3 separate regions of the Homo sapiens genome follow, and all the other regions are linked to region 3. Evidence: fine-mapped expression QTL. A gene starts in region 3. Each other region holds a variant in brackets. All regions are shown on one strand. Distances are between the middles of the regions. Region 1 overlaps MAML3 (mastermind like transcriptional coactivator 3). Region 2 overlaps MAML3 (mastermind like transcriptional coactivator 3). Region 3 holds the start of MAML3 (mastermind like transcriptional coactivator 3).

Region 1 (5,282 bases), 280 kb after region 3:
TAAATTGGCGGTCTAGTGAGAGAAACTGGTGAATAAACACAATTCCCCAAAACACTGCAAAGCAGTCACAGTTCTCTCCGTTTTTGCAGCGCTCCCACCACTTCCACCTTCTCCTGACTTGAGAACTGCCTAGGTATGACATCAGGTAGGATCATATAAGGAGCTGCCTTCGTAGGGAGGGTGGCAGAGTGTAGAGGTCGGGAGTCAGCTCTGAAGCCACAACAGATCTTCAAATCCTGACTTTACCACTTCAGAACTTGCAGGACCTTGGGCGGGTTATATAACCTGTTTGTACTTTAGGTTTTCATCTAGAAGATGGGGATGATCAGCTGGGCATGATGGCTCACGCCTGTAATCCCAGCACTTTGGGAGGCCGAGGTGGGCAGATCACGAGGTCAGGAGATTGAGACCATCCTGGCTAACATGGTGAAACCCCATCTTTACTAAAAATACAAAAAATTAGCCGGGCGTGGTGGCAGACGCCTGTAATTCCAGCTACTCGGGAGGCTGTGGCAGGAGAATGGCGTGAACCCAGGAGGAGGAGCTTGCAGTGAGCTGAGATCGCGCCACTGCACTCCAGCCTGGGCGACAGGGCAAGACTCCATCTCAAAAAAAAAAAAAAAAGGAAAGATAGGGGATGATAATCAATAGAGATATTAGGATGACTCTGTGTATTAGTTTACGTTAAGCATTTAAAATAGTATCAGACCCATAGGATGTACTGTGTTTTTAAAATTAAAAACATTAATCATATCGTGTGATTTGTACTTTTTTAATCCTCTAGGAGAGTGTAAGTTTCTTCAGTTTTCCTTTAAGCCAGTTTCATTCATTCATTCATTCATTCAACATATTTTATGTGCCTGTGGTGTCTAGGCATTGTGCATACAAAGATAGAAAGATTCTGGAAGAAATATATTATCATATATATGTGAAAATTTTATAGACAGGGACTGTAAACAAAATGGTAAAAGTGTATTACTGTTCTCTTTTAAAAGCCAACTGTTAGCAAGTTTCACTGGTGATTTTTTTAAAAAAAATCAATCTTGGCTCTGACAAGATTGTTCCTCCTGCATAATTTACCTCTATTTAAAATAAAAACTATTTATTTTTCATATTTTAAAGTACAATATTAAAATGCCATCTTTTTTGTTTATGTTAAATGATTTTAAATGAGGAAAACATCTCAAGACATAATCTAGCCACTCCCCACTCCTAACTCTAGAGGTCTGTTAGACTCTTTGAGGCCTTACAGTACCCTCATTGTTTCTGGTACCTCAGTAGATGAGAAAAATCATTTCTCTTTGTTAAAATCAGAAGCTAAAAAAGAAGGTGGGATTTAATTTACCTGAACATTTTATAACATCTGATCCATTTACATATTAAATGCAGGTAAACACATATTCCAAAATAATGAAAAGACCTTTTAATAAAACTTAAAAACTTAACTCCAAAGTAAAGAAGAGCTCTATTGGAAAGATTACCATATTAGTTATCTATTGCTGTGTAACAACTTATGCTCAAAACATAGCCACTTCAAACAACAAACATTTATTATCTTACATGGTTTTCAAGGGAATGCAGGAGCAGCTTAGCTGGGTGGTTATGGCTCAGGCTCTTCCATAAGGCTACCGTGAAGCTGTCAAGTGGGCTGCAGTCATCTGAAGGCTTGACTGGGGCTGGAGACTCTACTTCATATGTGGCTCCCTCCCATGGCTGCTGACTGGAGGCCTCAGTTCCTCACCACATGGACCTCCCCACAGGGCTGCTTAAGTTTTCTCATGACATGGCAGCTGGCTTCCCCTGAGTCAGCTTCAAGAGAGACCAAGGAGGAAGCCACAGTTCATTTCATGACATACTATCGAAATCACACACCTTCGTTTCTTCATTGTTTCATTCATTAGAAGCAAAATAATTTAAGTCCAGCCACACTCCAGGAGAGAGGGATTAGGTTCTCCCTTCTGAAGGGAGTGTCAAGAATTTGTGAACATATTTGTGGACACCATAATGACCATGAATGGCTTTGGCATTTTATAACATGCTTAAGTGGTACTGGCTCAGGAAAGCTTAGGATGGGAAGAACTGAGCTGGCAAAGGTGAGCAGCTCCATTTTTGAGGATACATAGATCAGATGTGCTGGAGTGAGAGGAGGGATGAAATCATAGGCTCCAAACATACCAGAAATTTCTTTTCTTTCACTTAGCAGTCCTGGACCTGATATCAAAGCTGTGCCACATAGCAGAGAAGCAATACAACATTCTGTGGTCAAATGTGAAGCCTTGCTTTTATTTAAAGTAGGAAACAAAATATCTGCGTGATTATTTATTTATTTATTTATTTATTTATTTTTTGAGATGGAGTCTCACTCTGTCTCCCAGGCTGGAGTGCAGTGGCACAATCTCAGCTCACTGCAACGTCTACCTTCTGGGTTCAAGCAATTCTTCCTGCCTCAGTCTCCTGAGTAGCTGGGATTACAGGCGCCCACCACCATGCCCGGCTAATTTTTTTAATATTTTTAG[T/C]ATAGACGGGGTGTTGCCATGTTGGCCAGACTGGTCTCAAACTCCTGACCTTAGGTGATCTACCCACCTCAGCCTCCCAAAGTGCTGGGATTACAGGCATGAACCACTGTGCCCGGCCGTGTGATTATTTTTTTAACTCTAAACCCAACCTTGTTATTGATAGGATTTTTATTTCTGCCTTAAGAATTCTTTCCATCACCTTTTCATTTTAAGACACTTATCATTTCTATCCCTTCCTTTGTCCCCTGTGCTGTCCTTCCTTCTGAAGTTCTCACCCGGAAAGGCATTACATCTTTGATGCTGCAGTTCACTTCTGTGTGCACCCCTGAGTTCTTCCAGTACATCCTCCAGTTCCTCTGCTTTCCATTTCACAACCTGGTTACAGTTAGTCACACTGTAACTTCCTGTTACTGAGTATTTCAGGGGCCAAAGCTCTCTATGCCCTATGCTGTCCACTTAGTCATCTCTCTCCACATTTGTATTATTCACAGCAAGATGCATGCACACAAATCCTTTAAGTCCGTCAGGCTTTTCTTTCCATTTCCCATTCAAATATGAATCACCTAGCAACATTTATTGAAGACCAATTGCACATGAAGCTGTGTTCCCATTATTGTGAGCCTCACAAAGGAAGTAAAAGCCATGGTCCTTGCCATTAAGAAGTTTATCCTCTACTAAAAGCTGGATTAAAAAATTTTTTTTAAAATAATAACAGCATACAGATTCCCGTTTATATTCAATAGAGTGAAATGTTGTCCAAGTTACAATGATCAAATGCAAGGGTTATTTCTCTGTATACCTTTTAACTGAGAAAGCTAGCCATCTTTTGGATTAGGTAAATGCATGTGCCTTGATGAGAAATACTGCTACAAAAAATTAGTGCCTGCTGTTCACTTCCTAGTATTGTAAACACGTTTCACCCAATCTGGTGAAATTTCAAGGCATGTTTTTGAAACTAAAATAAATAAATAAAACATTTATTAATCCTCTGTAACAAAGATACACCCAATTAATGTAACAAGTAGTTACAACCGATAACTGAAGCATAAGCAAAAGGATAATTGTATTAGTGTCCTAGGGTTTTCTTCTTTTTAAAAAGACGTCAGCACTGTGCATTGTTTTACCTTATTTTTAATGGACTGTTGATCAGAAAGGGGAGTAGGGAAACTGGGTTGCGAAGGGTTAATAAGGAACAAAAAGTGCAACCTGAGGAAGACACAGCTCAGGGAGGAGGACCCAGGGGAGTGTGGAAGCCCCTCAAAGCTCATTAGAGAGATTCAGCTTGTGATACAAGAAGCAATGGGTAGTCATTGTAGGTTTCTGAAAAGAGGAGAGTACTATCTCGATCAAAGTGATTGGCAGGAGAGATGCTAGGAAACAGCATACCTGGAACAAAATAATTAGGACCTGACTGCGTGTGACCCTGGAAATAGGTCCAAAGAAAAAGCAAGAGATTGTGGAAGTGACTGTGGGCAGGGGTGGGGACAGGAAAGGAAGAAAGGCGTCAAATTTGACTTCCAAACCTCCATACTTAAAAAAAACTGAGGATGGCCATTGGTTCCTGGCAAAGTGAGAGCTGAATTGACCAAAAGTTGTTTACTCTAATTGGCTTAATTGTCATTTGTACATGTAATGAAAGTTATTTTTCTGTGGAGAAATAAAGGAGTAACAGTGTGAATTTGGGGCTTATCTAGGTGGTAGGTAAAGAAAGACATATGAGTCGAACCACTTCTTGAGGAATGTCATACATGAGAAAAAATGTATAGTCTAGCATCAAGTCTGGAGATAGCTAGAACTAATGACCATGAAAAAATGATATACCATGAAAAAATGATAAGCACACAAGAAATAAAATGTGTGTATTGTGTGACTGCATGTATATTTGTGTATGTACACACAAACATGCATTCCAAAAACATCTGAAAACCCACTCATCATCATGTTAGCCCTAGGTAGTTCTAACTAATGGAAACACAACTGATACTTCTTTTCCTTTCTTTCTTTTTTTGCTTATCTGAATTTCCTCATTTTTCCTGTTGAATGTATATTGCTTGTATAAGTTTCTTCATAGTGAGAAATTGTTTTAAATCTTTGGTGAAATGAAAGATATAGATACAAAAATTAGTCAAGTGTGGTCCCAGCTACTTAGGAGGCTGAGGTGGAAGGATCTCTTGAGTCCAGGAGGTCGAGGGTACAGTTAGCTGTGATTGCGCCACTGAACTCCAGCCTGGGCGACAGAGTGAGACCCTGTCCAAAAAAAGAAAGAGGTAGGAATAGAGTTTTCAAGGTCAGAATTTAGAACAGAGGGAGCCTTGAAATAAGGCTCAAGATGAGGAAACGAAGACCCTGATAGTTATGGGATTTATTGCTAGGCTTTCAAAAGAAGAGTATGCATTTTCTAATGCTTAAAAAGCAATTTTTCATTTCAAGGCTTAAAAATATTAATAAATACATCAAAAGAAGAATGGAGTTATTCTCATCTGCTAGAACTTGGATTGATCTAAAGCAGTGGTTCTCAACCTCAGATGTTTTGTTCCCCAATCACCAACTGGACATTTGGCAACATCTGGAGATAGTTTTGGTTGTCACAACTTGGGGGCCAGGGGTAGGGTGGGGTGAGGGGAACGGGGAATTGACGCTGCTACTGGCACCTAGTGGGTAAGAGAGCAGAGATGCTGCTAAATATCCTACAATGTACAGGACAGTCTCTGCACAACAAAGCATTATCTAGCCCAAAATGTCGATAGTACAGAAGCTGAGAAACTC
Region 2 (5,282 bases), 430 kb after region 3:
GAGGTGGTCAGTGTGTGTTATTTTTATAATGAACACTCTAAAGAACAGGGACCTTGTTGTATATTCTTTATAGCCCTTGCAGATGAAAGGTGCTTAATGAATATTCAGCAGCTGCAGGGAGCAGGTTAAACAACATCCCCAAGGTCACGCAAGCTACTTGACGGCAGACCTAGAACTGAAACCTCTTTCTCTGCTCTTTCTACATCACTCTTATTTTCTTTCCCTTTGCACATACAGCATGATAATGATAATAGCCTTCCCAGCATATTGGTAGCAACACTAGCAGTGCAGCATCCCCGTGAGTGGAAGAAGAAAGACTAATATGCAGGCCTCCTGGTCTGCTGGTATATGTGGAATCCCACATGGTTTCCTCAAAGCAGTAAATGCTGAATAGTTTACATGTAGAGATGTATTTTACAGGCAGTGTGGCTTCATGGGAATAAGATTAGCCTTTTTTGTATAACTCCTGAGGATGTCATCTTCCTATGCCCAAAGCATCCACTTAGGTCATTAAAAAGCAGTTGCTTGTCCCTTTCAACTCAGTCCCCACAGCCTAAGGAAAGCATGCAGGCTGATGTTGGGCAGTCCATGTCAAAACCCCTTCCCTCAGCACGCATTCCTCATGAGCCAGCAAGTCCACACATCAGAAATACATACAGATGTTCACCAAAGGCATGTACAGGAATGTTCATAGCAGTCACATTTGAAACACAAAAACTAGAAACACCAAAGGTGACATCACTAGTAGAATGGGTAAATAAATTATGGTATATTCATATGATGGAATACTATCCAACAGTGAGAATGAACAAGCAACAAGAATTCACATCCACGTGGATGAATCTCACAAATACAGTGGTGAATGCAAGAAGCCAGACACAAAAGCAGCATCATGTGAATCCTTTTCTGCAAAGTACAAAAGCAGACATAACTGCTCTATGTTGTTAAAAGTTAGGACAGTGATGCCCATGGGTCAAGGGAGAGTGATGACTGGAAGGGGCACGAGGGGCTCCTGGCAGCGTTCTGTTTCTTGATGTGGGGGCTGGTGGCCCTGAGTGTGTTCGTTTTGTGAAAACCTACCTGACTCTATCCTTAGACTTTGTGCACTTGCCTGTATGCATATGATTCTTCAACACAAAGTTTAGTTTTGGGGAAAACACTACCTTCCTCGGAACTGCTGGGATATTGAATTGTGTGCTTGCTCCCTATCTCACCTCTCCACCCCTCTTGTGTTCTGTTGTTCTAGCAGTTGCAGCAATCACATCTACCCCGGCAGCACCTCCAGCCACAGCGGAATCCATACCCAGTGCAGCAGGTCAATCAGTTTCAAGGTGAGGCCAGTGCAACCTCTCTCATTTTATACCTTCCAGTGGTGAAGCGTAAGTGAATGTGTAGCCAGAGGCATTGCCTTACTGGCTGTATTTGTGTCCAGGAAATACTCAAAATATGTAACTACTGGTAGGTTAAGAGTACTAACCAATCAGAATGGATTCCTAGAGGCCTCCTGTTGTGCCAGGCATTAACCTTTTGGTCACTGAGTCACAGAGAGGTTCTAGAAGGCACAGGGAAGGGTCAGGGTAGCTGTCGGAGTTGGGACTAGAACAGCTGTTCTTTACCAAAGGTACATAGTATTGTAATAGTTTAACAACCAGTAAAGATATACTGGTGCCTGTTGGCTGCATATCAATTTTGTTTATGTTTAGATCGTCATCTTAGTGACTACAGGGGCAAAAATCTTGTGCCACATCTTTTTTGCTTATCCCAGCAGGTCACCTGACCAAAGCCCTTACCTCTAAAGCTGAAGTGGAAGAATCTGGCTTGCAACAACCACTAGTCTCTTTTGAATGTAGAAGACAAATAGGGCCTTGAGGCTGATTGAACTGATCCTGTAGCCGTTTGCGGGAATCCTAAATCATGACCTAGTAGCAGTGGGCGCACTGTATGTCAGTGTTGGCACTCCTTTATAAATGTGGAAGGCCCGTTCAAATATCAAACCCTTCCATCTCTAATAGAGAGAGCCCTTGGCCGGGTGCGGTGGCTCACGCCTATAATCCTAGCACTTTGGGAGGCTGAGGTGGACGGATCACTTGAGGCCAGGAGTTCAAGACCAGCCTGGCCAACATAGCAAAACCCTGTCTCTCTAAAAATGCAAAAAATTAGCCAGGAGTGGTGATGCATACCTGTAATCTCAGTTACTTAGGAGGTTGAGGCACAAGAATCGCTTGAACCCGGGAGGTGGAGGTTGCAGTGAGCTACTCCAGCCTGGGCAACAGAGCGAGACTCTGTCTCAAAAAAAAAAAAAAAAAGACCCTTGAGGGTCTTATATGGGGTGAAGAAAATAGCCTGAGGAGCCTTCCTAATCTTATCCACAGGAGTTTTCAGGGGGCTACAGGGGTCACCTAGCAGCAGAAATCCTAATCCCATCCTCTGCCCATTTTGTGGGATCTAGATCAATGTGTCCTAGCTTCTCAAAAGTTACCTATTCCTTTAAGTGTCTGCAAAAAGCTATGAAGCCTCTTGCAGAGAAACATATAATATGTAAATATATACAAACTTTTATATAATTTCACAAGTATCCCTGAACTTTATCAATAGACTGGGTGAAAATTTTCTGATCTAAGGTAGCATTTTTAACTTCTCAGATTGCAACACACAAGGTTATTGGAAACAACTTAGTGGGTCACAACCAACATTTTCAAAATGAAATACAACAGAAATTACCAGAGCATATCAGAAACTTTTCTTTCTGTTTTAAACCCACATGTATATATCCTAGATCATGAACTGTGAGCTGTAGTTTACAGTCTGAAAGCCATTGATATTTACTGACAGATCACATTGAAGATCACCTGTAAAAATACTGGGTCTTGAGTAGCTACCACTCCCTTCCACCTCTGGAATGCTTATATCACATTAGATCCTTTGGCCTTGACACAGGGAAGGACAAAAGGAATTGAGTTAT[C/G]CACAGGTGTTCTGTGCACTAAATCAGTGCCAGTGGTTTTTGAAGAATTATGTTTCTAATTTTGCCATGGGTAGCTTCGGAAGAGTGGGGACTAGTCATCATTACATAGTTGTTGTTGCAGATACAGAGCCCTCCTTTGTATCTGTAGTTCTCAAACTTTAGCCTGCACTGAAAGCACCAGCGGAGCTTGTTAAAACATACACAGTGTTTCTGATTCAGTAAATCTGAAGCGGGGCTTGAGAATCTGCATTTTTTACAAGTTCCCAGGAGTCACTGATTTTGCTAGCTAGGGAACCACGCTTGAGAGCTGCTGCATTATATTATGAACTAATTAAAAACATAAAAGCTGATAAACCCAGCATAATGTCTCTTGAGTTTTCCAGGTTCATAACTCATGTATTATTTGTGGGGGAAAAGGGGAATTATTTAATAATTCCCCTGTGTTACAGAACATAGACACATATGAGCTATTCTGAATGTTTTGGGTCCAGTTAAAAACTTCTATTCCAGGCAGGTGCAGTTGCTCACTCCTGTAATCCCAGCACGTTGGGAGGCCGAGGCGGGCAGTTCACCTGAGGTCGGGAGTTCGAGACCAGCCTGACCAACATGGAGAAACCCCGTCTCTACTAAAAATACAAAAAATTAGCCAGGCATAGTGGCGCATGCCTGTAATCCCAGCTACTCCGGAGGCTGGGGCAGGAGAATTGCTTGAACTCAGGAGGCAGAGGTTGTGGTGAGCCAAGATCGTGCCATTGCACTCCAGCCTGGGCAACAAGAGCAAAACTGTGTCCCAGAAAAAAGAAACAAAAAAAACCAGAGACAAAAATTAAAGTCACCTGAAATCCCACCATCCAGAGATGATCAATCCTATTCTTTTGTTTCTATATAAATAGACACCCACAAAAATTGGGATTGTACTGTACATGGGTTTTTGAAGCTGACTTTTCCACTTAACAGATCCTGATGTAATTCTTGTTTATACTTCAGAAGCAAATTATTTCGCACTCATATAGATATGATATCATCCTCAACCAATAAGATACTATTTTCTTTGGAGGTGAGAGAGAATTCACCTTTGGGGCTAAATTAGAAAGAAATGGCTGATCACTTTGCATTTTCTATTCGTGACGTGGAACACGGTTCAGTAGAGAATACTATCAGTAAAGCCAGTGTGACATTTTAGGGTCCTTGAACTGATTGGTTTGAGATATATAATTTGTTTTACTATCTTCAGTATTTTCATGTGTTTACAGACACCCTAGATAGCATGATGTTATGCATCTGGGAAAATAGCAAACTGAAAAATAAGAAATATCATTCTTGGAGAGAAGTTTTGTTAGGTATAACTTGCATGAGAACCTATCCCATACTCTCACCATTATACATTTCAAAGGTCTTAATGACTGTCTTTCCCTCATTAGGTTCTGGATCTCTGGGCAATGTTACATGACTATGGGGAAATACTTATTTTTTTCACAAATACAGGCTTCTTGTGAGTGAAAATAGAACATAGACTTTTTTAGGAAAAAGTTGGATACTATCATCTGTATTTGAATATACAAGATTTTCTTGGACATTGTGATGTTAACCAGCAGACAAGAAAATTAGATTACAGTGTCTCACAATAATATCTGCTTTAGACCAAAAAAAGAAAAAGAAAACATAATCTGTTGTTTAACACATGTAGTAATCATGTAAAGACAAGTTAATTCCTTGGACACATCTGAATTTTTTTCCTTTGTATATTTAAAATCACGGAAGGCATAAAACTAGATTAATAAAAGTCCTTTTATTTCCCTTAGGTGAAAAAGAATGTGGCAATTGCTGATTTTAAAATGCCTTTTAAAAATAAGAATTACATCAAGATAGTGCAGTCATTTACACTAAATAAAAAATAAAGGTTGGCTTGGATTAATGTATCACTGCCTATTAAAAAGCATTGTAACGCTTCTGCCCTCTAAAGAAAGGAACCTATTTCTCATTCACAAAATTATTCCAGACAGTATCTAGTCCTTTACCATATCCATTATAAATATACCCCAAAATGGCCAAATTATAGATGTCCTTTCATCTATTTCTAGCAGCCCATCAGACTGTTTATATAATTTGGGTCTATCCAATCAATCTCTGACTCAGCAATATTTTTCCCTTAAACTTTTTTTATAAACAACTCAATAACCCATTTCACCACAGTTGATCTTATTGGCCATGCAGCCGATAAAAATTTAGTCGTTAAGGTCACAAAACTGCATGACAATATTACAAGTTGCAGTATATACTACCTTCCAGTGTTTTACTAGGAACTTTCGATTTTTCAAAA
Region 3 (5,282 bases):
TGACCAACAAAGCTGGAAACCTTGCAGGACCATATCATGGGATCTGGAAGTAGCCAGCATAAAGGTCTCTGTTTCTTCTAAGGTCACTGGAGTAGATCAACATCTCTAATTCAGGGTGACTGGCATATGTTGCTCAAGATGCAAGCCTTGCTTGCTTCTTGCTTCTTTCTTCTAATCTTCCTGCACAATGAGAATGGGGTTTCTGACCTCTGGTACGTCACAGCAGAGTCCTGCACAGGTCGGTTTCTCAAAGATTCTTCCCCTCTGGCCATCACACAGTTTCACAGTTCTTCCTTTCCCCACATCTGGGGCATGGAGCTTGTGGCTGCCACTCCCATTTTGGAGAGATGAAAGACGGGTGCCTGTGTGTGCGCTTGTTTGTGTGTACACATGTAACAGTTTTTCTTTTGGGTATAGCCCATTCATGCACTAAAATCAGGCAGCAAAGTATACTGTGGTTGTGCAAGAAGAGCTTCATTTGTCATTGGGGAACTCTGTGGTAAAACCACAAAGTGTGCTGTCCCACCTGCTGGTTCCCCAAAGGGAAGGATGCAAATTCTTGTGTCTTTTTGGTTTCCCTTCATGGTAGGAGAGGTAAACAGCTTGAAGGGAATACATGGTGCTGCTATTGTTGTCATTTTTTCCCCAGAATGAGAAACTCTCAATGAATAATTAAATTCTGAGTCACAGGAAAAAGCTAAAATGAGAACCCAAGTCTCAAAAACTAAAGACCCAGTGCTTAAGACCCTCAAATTTGTTGCCTCTGTAAATCAAACTGCAGTCTTTTGTGGGTGATGGAGGCAAGTGAAGGAGGAGGGATAACAATTAAACTACAGTGTGGCCAGGCGCAGTGGCTCACACCTGTAATCCCAGCACTTTGGGAGGCCAAGGCAGGTGGATCATCTGAGGTCAGTAGTTTCAGACCAGCCTGGCCAACATGGTGAAACCCCGTCTCTACTAAAAATACAAAAATTAGCCAGGTGTGGTGGCGTGCACCTGTAATCCCAGCTACCCAGGAGGCTCAGCCAGGAGAATCACTGGAACCCGGGAGGCAGAGGTTGCAGTGAGCCAAGATGGCGCCACTGCACTCCAGCCTAGGCAACAGAGCAAGACTCTGTCTCAAAAAAAAAAAAAAAAAAAAGAATTAAACTACGGTGAAGAGAGAGCAAAGCGAATGCAGAGTCATAGCTTCCCCTCTGTGGCGAAGCCATGTGTTTCCTGAGTTAATAGAGATATTATTTAGTGAATATGTGAAAAAGATAAAGGCCACTTTGCTACCTCTTTTTCTAATTTCTTAAAATTCTCTACATATTTTCAGAATCTGAACGGGCTCTTTTGCTACAGACGTAGTCCAGTTAAATTTTCTGACTGAGACTTGAAGAAGGGCAGTTTGATACAGAAATTTGTATATTAACTAAATAGCCTTCAGAAAAAGTGTGGCAACTTCAATGAAATATACACTCTCTTAAGTTGGTTTTACTGCTTAGAAGTAGCCTCACACCGTATTAAATATTTTGCTGCCCATTTTGCCATATATCCAGTGAATATTAAAAATATCGTTCACTATATAGAACTGATTAATTGAAGAAAAATATAGCTTCTTATCGCTGACATTATGAGGTTAGAAATAGCATCCTGTGCTAATCTGCAATGCCAAGAAATGAAGATGGTTTAAATCAGATCTCATGACTAATGCATAAGATCCAAAGTTCTTTTATTCCTGGCTATTTTAGAAAACTGGGGTGTATTTTTACCCTAAAAACTAATTCTTAAGATTTATTGAAATAATACAAAATGACTTATAATTAACATCTCACAATCAAGATTTATAGTTTACTGATTATTAGAGAAATAATAATTTCTCCATCTTAATTTTTAAAAATATGTATATGCAATGGTTTAAGTCCATATTCAAGAATATTTGATCCTTAGTTGTTATTTTTGTTTTTAGATAATATCGGGAAAGATAATGTGCTTTAATAAAATGGAAAGTTTAGATTGATTTCTGCAGTTGCTAGTCCATTTTAATTGTACTTATTGTGAATTCATTGAAATGGAAAGAAATATATCCAGCAATAAAGTAGGCCTGTTATTTTTGCTTGTTTTTGTTTTGGTCATGACAAACTGTGAAATGCTGTGTTTTTTCTATAGTTCTAGTCTATGAAATCTGCAATCTTTCCACTTGATTTACGAAGGACCTTAATTACTGCTGTCATTAGCACCTAGTGTTCAAAACAGTCTGTTTAAATGTACTGTTAGTCTCACCTCCAAGTCCCTGCTTGCTTTATTTTTTTCCAAGGGTAAGTAAAACAATAATTGACTTAGTAACAACAATCATTATGTACAGTGAGTTAAATATTACACATTTTTGATGCCTATTTCTATTTATTTAGAATTTGGTATTTGTGTGTTCAGTCTGGCCTAGACTTGGAACAAGTGTCCGTAAGTAGCGCTGTTACTAGCGCAGACTTATTACCTGGGTTTTAAAAACAAGTCACTCATTTGCCTTTTTCTTTCCACATGGATAGGGATGACAGACAACTGCTGTAAAGCTTCAATGTTTCTGCCTGGTCATGCACAGTTCTGCAATATAATGCATAAATGTATAACAACAACTTGGGATCGCTTGATACTTTCCTTGGAATAAGGAAACCCTACCAGGCGCGTCCCCGCGCACGCGCGCGCGCATACACAGACACACACACTCACACACGCTCTCACGCACACACACAGGTCAAAAGTTGATTTATTTCTGAGATCCCCCCAGAATCTTTCTTCTCTCCGTCGCCGACGGCTCTGGGCTTCTCGGCGGGGCGGTAGTGTGGTTGGGGGCGTAGGAGGGGCGCCGGGCGCCGAGGCGACGGAGACGGGAGCCGGGTGCTGGTGCGTGCCGCGCCCGCTCCTGCCGGGTGAGAGTCCGGGCCGGGTTTTGCGCCGTGTCCGCGGGCCTGTCTCACGGCCTCCAGCCGCCGCCGCTGCCGTGTTTACTGAGCTCGCGCGTCCTGATATCACTCCGCTGGCATGGAGGAGGAGGAGGAGGTGGAGGAGCGAGAGGAGGAGGAGGAGGCGGCGGCGGCGGCGGCGGCGAGCAGTTGATCATTGTGATGGTGGCAGGAGCAGCGGCGGCAGCGGCAGCCCAGCCGAGCGTTAGGTGCTGCTCTCTGCGCGGCGTTTTGCAAAGGACTTCACCGATCTACTTTTGCAGTCGCCTCGGACTGTCCATGTGTTTACTTCCCCCAGCCCGAGGATTCGATATCTAGGTTCCTGTGAAATGCAACTGAGCAGCCAAAGTACTTTGAGAACACGGGGCGGCATAAACACCAAAACTTTTTTGTGGAAGGAAAATGCAATAAGCAAGCTTGCCGTTTTCCGATGCGGTGTGGAGTGAGTGTGTGTCGCGCGTGTCCGCACTGGAGGCATATGCTTGTGTGTGTACATGGGGTGTGTTTTTCGGTATGTAGGGAGAAAATGCTTGCCAACCACCGGAAATCTCCTGGAATTTATTAGAAAATAATGGATTATAAAAAGAAGGCAAGCAAGGAGCGGATCTCCCCTTGAGTTGCAACCCGATTTGCTGCTGGCTCAGTTTGTTGTGATTCTTTTTGTTGATAGGTGTCTGATGGTATTCCGATAACGTTCCCCCCTTTTCTTCCCCTTGAGCTTTTACAGTTTAAAAAAAGGAAACAAAAACCACCCCAAAATCTCCCCCCCCGTTTTTTTCGCCCCGTCGGGATCGCCGTTTCCATCCATGTGCTTGCGTCTCCCCCGCGTTCCACTTAAACTATTTTAATCCTTGGACCCAAGGAGGAGGCTGATAGGGGGGTGGATAAAAAAAGTTCTTCCAAAATAGTGTGCCCGGGGAGCAGGATGGGGGATTTCGCAGCCCCCGCTGCTGCCGCGAATGGCAGTAGTATTTGCATCAACAGTAGCCTGAACAGCAGCCTCGGCGGGGCCGGGATCGGTGTGAATAATACTCCCAATAGTACTCCCGCTGCTCCGAGTAGCAATCACCCGGCAGCCGGTGGATGCGGCGGCTCCGGGGGCCCCGGCGGCGGTTCGGCGGCCGTTCCCAAGCACAGCACCGTGGTGGAGCGGCTCCGCCAGCGCATCGAGGGCTGCCGTCGGCACCACGTCAACTGCGAGAACAGGTACCAGCAGGCTCAGGTGGAGCAGCTGGAGCTGGAGCGCCGGGACACCGTGAGCCTCTACCAGCGGACCCTGGAGCAGAGGGCCAAGAAATCGGGCGCCGGCACCGGCAAACAGCAGCACCCGAGCAAACCCCAGCAAGATGCGGAGGCTGCCTCGGCGGAGCAGAGGAACCACACGCTGATCATGGTGAGGGCGCACGGGCAGCGGGCTTGCGGCGCGCGTTGGGGGTGGTGGTGGTGGTGGGGGGCGCGTGGAGCTTCTTACATGGGGGTACAAGGGTCTGATTTGCACGGTGGGTGAGGTGGGCTGAAGCCTAAGGGTTAACGTCAACTTTTCTTAGGGAAAAAGCTGCCGTCGTCGCTACCTGTTAATCTGTCAGGGTTGTCAGATTTGGGGAGGAGGGGGCGAGAGGGGAGAAGCCAGTCACGACTGCGAGGGGCGGAGGGAGCCTAGAGGAGCGTCGGAGTGAGGTGCTGGAAAAGTTTCCCCCCTTCCCTTTCTTAAGATACCGATTTGAAAGAGTGAACCCCTGAGTTGAAACCTTGCTCCTCCTCTTCGCCGCTCCCCACCCCACCTCTAGCCGCGCCGCCTCGCCTCCCCAGACCCGTCCCCCTACGCCCACCCCTCTCAGCACATCCGCCGGGTGCGTGGAAATATTGATGCTGTCGCAGGTTCTGGGCGGGCACCAGGCCCTCAACCCCTAGGGGGGAAGCGGGGAAGGAGAGCCTCTCGCCTCCTCTCCCCAGCTCACCCCCTTTGGGCTGAGAAAGTCTGAGAGTTTTGTGAATGAACTTTGAAGTGGGTGAGAAACGAGCGAGGGTGGCTGCGCGCGGGGGTGCTCGCGGGAGCGCGCGCGGATGCGGGGCGCGGGTGCGCTCCGCTCTTTGCTCGCGACTCGGGGCTAGCCCGGCAGGTGGAGCGGCTGGGAGGGTTAAGAGGGGAGCGGCCTGGAGGGGGCGGGAGGGGAAAGCAATACCCAGGGTTTGCGCCAAGAGGCCCCACCACACAACTTCGCTTGGGATTCTTTCCTTTTTTCCTTTTAAACTTGCGTGCACGGAGTCTTTCTCCGCTTGGCGCCCCCTGCCCCGCTGCCCGCCAACTTTGGGGGCCTGCTTAATAAGCCCAGAGCAATG

The links. PIP is the estimated chance that this variant, and not a neighbour inherited with it, causes the effect. A credible set is the group of variants that fine-mapping cannot tell apart.
Region 1: its variant is the best candidate, but not a certain one, in a credible set for the expression of MAML3 in monocytes (TOPMed, PIP 0.57).
Region 2: its variant is the best candidate, but not a certain one, in a credible set for the expression of MAML3 in whole blood (TOPMed, PIP 0.68).

Annotation. Positions count from the first base shown.
Region 1 is chr4:139,870,148-139,875,429 of GRCh38, reverse strand. All of the region lies in intron 2 of MAML3 (mastermind like transcriptional coactivator 3), which reads left to right. Among named protein-coding and RNA genes, the nearest start is that of MGST2, 210 kb to the right of the region's middle. RefSeq lists an enhancer at 1-248. The variant T/C (reference allele first, on the strand shown) is at 2,517.
Region 2 is chr4:139,721,800-139,727,081 of GRCh38, reverse strand. It overlaps MAML3 (mastermind like transcriptional coactivator 3), which reads left to right. Exons shown (of 5, transcript NM_018717.5): 4 at 1,247-1,331. It also overlaps a transcript of MGST2 not described here. Among named protein-coding and RNA genes, the nearest start is that of MGST2, 59 kb to the right of the region's middle. The variant C/G (reference allele first, on the strand shown) is at 2,963.
Region 3 is chr4:140,151,913-140,157,194 of GRCh38, reverse strand. MAML3 (mastermind like transcriptional coactivator 3) reads left to right here and starts at 3,011. Exons shown (of 5, transcript NM_018717.5): 1 at 3,011-4,335. The coding sequence starts at 3,868.